2 separate regions of the Homo sapiens genome follow, and region 2 is linked to region 1. The links come from fine-mapping of genetic effects on gene expression. A gene starts in region 1. The other region holds a variant in brackets. All regions are shown on one strand. Distances are from middle to middle. Region 1 holds the start of HOPX (HOP homeobox). Region 2 has its middle 26 kb from the start of CHAER1.

The links. PIP is the estimated chance that this variant, and not a neighbour inherited with it, causes the effect.
Region 2: its variant is fine-mapped to the expression of HOPX in tibial artery (GTEx, PIP 0.92).

What each region holds. Positions count from the first base shown.
Region 1 is chr4:56,679,743-56,682,657 of GRCh38, forward strand. It overlaps HOPX (HOP homeobox), which reads right to left and starts at 1,554. Exons shown (of 4, transcript NM_032495.6): 1 at 1,513-1,554. RefSeq lists a silencer at 1,552-1,601.
Region 2 is chr4:56,728,766-56,731,680 of GRCh38, forward strand. No RefSeq gene overlaps it. Among named protein-coding and RNA genes, the nearest start is that of CHAER1, 26 kb to the left of the region's middle. The variant G/A (reference allele first, on the strand shown) is at 1,479.

The sequences.
Region 1 (2,915 bases):
GCTGGGATTACAGGCGTGGGCCACCGCACCCAGCCACTTTCTTTTTGCTATAGATTAGTTTGCATTTTCTATCATTTTATACAAATGTAATCACTCAACACATCCTATTTTGTGCATGGACATAACATCTAATTATCTCCCTGGACTTTAGATTTCAAGCTCTTTGAGAACAAGATCCATTTTTTCTTTTCTCTTCCTCTTGGCCTTCAACTTATCTTTTCTCAGATATAGCCCTTAATCATTATTTGCTTGATTGACATAAGACCTTCATGAACTTAAAACCAAGCTTCAGTTTGGTGGCTAAGAAGTGCCTGCCACGTTGAAGGTTTTTAACTCGCCACCACTTCTGGAGAGGTTCCTCAGTCGGCAGCTTCAGCCCAGTTAAAAAAAAATAATAATAAGCATATGAGCTTCATTTAGGTCCGTGGACTTCTAGGAGTCCAGAAAGTGAGAGTCAAGGTGTGGGTTGGGGTGTGGGGTGGAAGGGGAGGCTCAGGAAGCGAGGAATGAATACCTGAGAAAGGTCCTTGGCTTTCACCAGATTCTTGATACAAAGGGATAGACTATGGAATTAATGCCCTGCTCTATTCCTATCTGCTTTTCATGAATCTGTTGTTTAATTATAAATCCTTTACTATCTGCTCCTCCCTTCTCCTCCCTTCCCACCTCCCCAGCACCTTCGTTTTGTTCTCTGCCTGCCCTGGTTATACTTAACCTTACTTAACTAAACACACTACAGGGCCCTGTCCAGTAGCAGTGCCACTTCATGGGAACTGTTTGCATTCCTTTTCTCTTTAAGAGCTTCTTATCTGAACTATGTGATAGATTGTACCTTTTTATTCAATGATTCTTATTCCACTTTACTTAACAGTTTACCCTGAATACTTGGATGCCACTCACATATCACAAACCTATACTTTCTCTAAACCCCAGAGCCTGGGATTCCTTTTCATCTCAAAAAAAAAAAATCACTGTTTTTGTTGTTATAAATAAGTATTATGAGAACCAGAAGTAACAATAAACTGCAAATTCAAAATCAAGCCACTTCTCCATCCAGAGACAGCTCCCTCACTTCCCCTTGTCAAACACAAAACATATTTTAAAACGATATTATGTCTGATTTTAGATAAAAGTCTGGGATGTAGAATAACAATAATCTGCTTCTAAATGAGAAAATCATAGGCATCTGACAAATGCTGGTTTCAAAGTTATCTTTCCAAAATAGAAGCGAGTAAGAAAAACATCTCACCTGCTTGGCCAAAAGACCAACACCAACTCCCCTTCCTCCAAATTCCCCTCGACCCCATGCAGTTTTGTTTGTAAGGGACTGATGTCTTACACCCAGCAGCATTTCCTAGCTTCTGCTTGGGGGTAAGCTTGTCATTCCTATTCTCCCTTTCACCTCTACCGTTTTCCAACAGATGAGCAAATACGGTAACGATAGCATTTTGGTCTAGTTCCTGCACAAACTCATTCCTCTGCATAAAAGGCAGACCTTTGAAAGGTACTTACGTGGAAGAGGCAAAGGCAAGCGCAAGCCCTGGGTTTGGAAGCTGTGTTTGCTGATGCCAGCCTGCTTAAATAGCTGGGCTGGCTGACGCAGGCTGCTGATAGCACGTTTATTTACGCCTATGAGCACACACTCGAGCAAGGACCTGAAAAACCTGCAGCGTGGGCAGGAGGTAAACCACTGAAAGTATGCCGAGGTTACGTCTCTCCTGGTTATTCAGGTTTGATGTTCAGGCTGGGACTTCTGAGAGTCTCATGGAACTTTCTCGTCACTATCTTCTCGTCCCTGACCTCTCTCCTAGCCAAGCAAGCTTCTTCACCAAGATAGGATAAGAGAGATGTGGCTGAGAGAAGACGGGGAAGAGAAAAGGGACCCTGAGTCTTCTCATCCACTTCCTTACTTTGAGCGAGTTTCCAGTTAGATGTTGCCTCATTTCAAAGCGTAGATCTGGTGCGGTTGATTTCACAGCTCTGAGAGCTGGATGCCAAGCTAAGAGCCTGGACAATTGCCCAATTAATGAAAGGTTGTTTTCTTTTGGGCACAGAATGTACACATAAAGAACAGTTAAAAGGGAGAGATTCGGGCTAGGATGATACAGTTTTAGGTCTCCCTCAAAAACGATTCTCATTTATTTCCCCTGCATCTGTACTTTCCTCTTACCATCCCCTCCCCTTCGTTAATGAAATTCCTGTCTAAGAGGTGAAAGATTCCCCATGGGCTTGCGAATAAAAAGCCAGTGTGTGAGCAAGTCTGTGGGAAGATGCATGCAGAGTGTGACAGAGAGTTTAGGGGCTCGTGTGACAATCCGTGGAAATGTTTCTAAAGGCGAGGGTATGTGTGTGGGTGTGAGGACCCGGCTGTTGGATGTTTACGTATTTTATTAGCTAGATACGGGAGCTAATACTCAATTGCAGTGCACTAAACATTATTAGGTGGGTATGATTTTGAGGGAATGAGGGAAGGGAGACAAGGTCTGGTGAGATCATCTGTGGGATTATCTGTGTGTATTTGCTGGTTTGTAGCACAAACCGGTAAGTGCCATCCAGAGAGCCACACCCTATATTATTCACTTCAGCAGAGAAAGAGAAAGCCCACTTGAGTCTCTTGGGAACAGTAGCCATATGTGAAAGAAGAGCAGCGCTCATTCAGAATACCTCTTTCCCTCTTGGAAAAGGGGGTGACGGTTATAAAACATGTGTGGGAAAGAGTAGAGACAGGGGGCCCAGGTTAACCCAACCTTGGTTACCAGAGGAATTCTTTTGTTTCCTGCCTAATTCAATGCCTAACTTCTGACCATTCTATGGCCAAATCTGGATTCTTGCTGCCACGATTTTTTGAATGGGCAGGGTCTATGTCTTGTTTATCATTTGATACCCACAGCATTATTATTATTATTGTTGTTGCA
Region 2 (2,915 bases), 49 kb after region 1:
AGTTGAAACAGGAAGCACTAAAACAGCCTCAGCTGCCAGCCATCTTGAAGGGCGCAGCCTGAGTCACTCTCCTCCCCATTAGGACCTGGGGTGGGACCAGGGGATGCTCTTTCTTTCCTTTTTTTTTTTTTTTTTTTTTTTTTTTGCGTCTCACACTGTCACCAGGCTGGAGTGCAATGGCACGATCTCGGCTCACTGCAACCTCCACCTCCCAGGTTCAAGCGATTCTCCTGCCTCAGCCTCCTGAGTAGCTGAGATTACAGGCGCGTGCCACCACGCCCGGCTAGTTTTTGTATTTTTAGTAGAGACGGTGTTTCACCATATTGGTCTGGCTGGTCTCAAACTCCTGACCTCGTGATCCACCTGCCCAGCCTCCCAAAGTGCTGGGATTACAGGCGTGAGCCACCACGCCTGGCCGGGATGCTCTTTCTATAGTGGCTCTCTCCCACAAGCCCTCCCCTACTTCCACCCTGATGTCCTGGAGCTGAACCTCTGCCCTTAATCCAACTCCCAAGTTCTTACTTTGGTACATGGTTGTATTAGTTATCTATTGCTGTGTAAAAAATTACTTCTAAACATAATGGTTTAAAACAGCACGTATTTATTATTGCAGTTTCTGGGGTCAGGAATCTGGACAGGATCCCTTAGCTGGGATCTCTGTTTCAGGATGTCTCACAAGGCTGCCATCAAATTTTCAACTGAGTCAGGATCCATTTGCAACTCACTCAGTGGTTCCTCAGGGGTTACTGAACCGAAGGCCTCAATTCCTTTTAAGCTGTTGGCCACAGCCTGGCCTCAGTACCTAACCATAGGGGCTTCTCCAGCATGGCAGCTTGCCTCATCAAAGCTAGCAAGAGGCTAGGCATGGCAGTTCACACCTGTAACGCCAGCCCTTTGCGGGACTGAGATAGAAGGATCACTTGAGCCAAGGAATTCAAGAACAACCTGGATAACACAGCAAGCCCTCATCTCTACAAAATTTAAGAATTTTAGCTGGGCATGATGGCACAAGTGCATGTGGTCCCAGCTACTTGGGAGGCTGAGGTAGGAGGACGACTTGAGCCCAGAAGGACAAGGCTGCAGTGAGCCATGATGGCACCAGTGCACTCCAGCCTGGGCAACAGAGCGAGACACTGTTAAAAAAAAAAAAATCTAGCAAGAGACTCGAAGAGAGTTTGCGAGCAAGAGTGAAGTCACAACCTTTTGTAACCAAATCAAGAAAGTGAGACCAGGCGCAGTGGCTCACACCTATAATCCTAGCACTTTGGGAGGCCCAGGCAGGTGGATTGCCTGAGCTCAGGAGTTCAAGACCAGCGTGGGCAACACAGTGAAAACCCATCTCTACTAAAATACAAAAAACTAGTAGGGCATGGCGGCGTGTGCCTGTAGTCCCAGCTACTCAGAGGCAGGAGAATTGCTTGAACTCGGGAAGCAGAGGTTGCAGTGAGGTGAGATCATGCCACTGCACTCCAGCCTGA[G/A]TGGTCCCCAATGAGCCCCGCCTCCAGGCACTCACCCCTGTGTGATTTGCTCACTGTGAATGTGGGCTGCACCTGGTGACTTATCTGTAACTCATAGAATATGACAATGATGACCAGATGTCACTTTTTTTTTTTTTGAGGTAGAGTCTCACTCTGCCACTCAGGCTGGAGTACAGTGGAGCAATCTTGGCTCACTGCAACCTCCGCCTCCTGGGTTCAAGTGATGCTAATGCCTCAGCCTCCTCCCAAGTAGCTGGGGTTACAGGCATGTGCCACCACGCCCAGCTAATTTTTATATTTTTAGTAAAGACAGGGCTTTACCATATTGGCCAGGTTGGTCTCGAACTCCTGGTCTCAAGTGATCTGCCCACCTCAGCCTCCCAAAGTGCTGGGATTACAGGCATGAACCACCGTGCCCAGCCCAAACTTTCCCTAAACTTAAGATTTGCTCTGCTGAAGATAATTCTTCTGACAGTTGTCTTCACCACCTTGGTTGAACCAAGACAGAAAAATCTCATAACCTTAGATGTCCCTGTACTAATAATAGCTAATGCTTCTATAGCGCCAATTACATGCCAGGCTTTGCATGAGCTTTCTATGAACTTTACAAATAGTAACTCATTTAATCCTCATAACAATTTTCCGAAGTAGAGGCTCTCATTAACTTATTTTACAGACAAAGCAACTGAGCCACAGAGAAGCAAGTACTATATCTTGCCAAAGGTAACACAGCTATTGAGTGGTGGAAGTAGGATTTGGGAGCTGGGAGTTTGGTTCCAGAATTCCTGATGTGAACCATTATGCTATTCAATAACCCACATATAAGCTGGAATACAATACTGTCCAGTCTGGCACACTGTGACATTAAAATAAAACATTAAAAACATAGGCCAGGCAGGGTGGCTCAAGCCTGTAATCTCAGCACTTTGGGAGGCCGAGGTGGGCGGATCATGAGGTCAAGAGATCGAGACCATCCTGGCTAACACGGTGAAACCCCGTCTCTATTAAAAGTACAAAAAATTAGCCGGGCGTGGTGGCAGGCGCCTGTAGTCCTATCTGCTCGGGAGGCTGAGGCAGGAGAATGGCGTGAACCCAGGAGGCGGAGCTTGCAGTGAGCTGAGATCGCGCCACTGCACTCCAGCCTGGGCGACAGAGTGAGACTCCGTCTCAAAAAAACAAAAACAAACAAACAAAAAAAAACATAGCTAAGCAACCAAAACAAAATTCCAACATTTAATTGGCATTAAAAAAGATTTAACCTATAACCTACAGCAGCACATTTTGGTTCTCAGAGCCCTTCATTTGGTAGCTTTCCTCTACGAATGTTCCCTGAAACCCAGCCCAGATTATTTTTTATTTTCTTTTTTCCATACTTCTCTCTTAGCTCCTTATGATATAAATTGACTTTGTCTTCTGGCTTCATTCTTTAGTATCCTG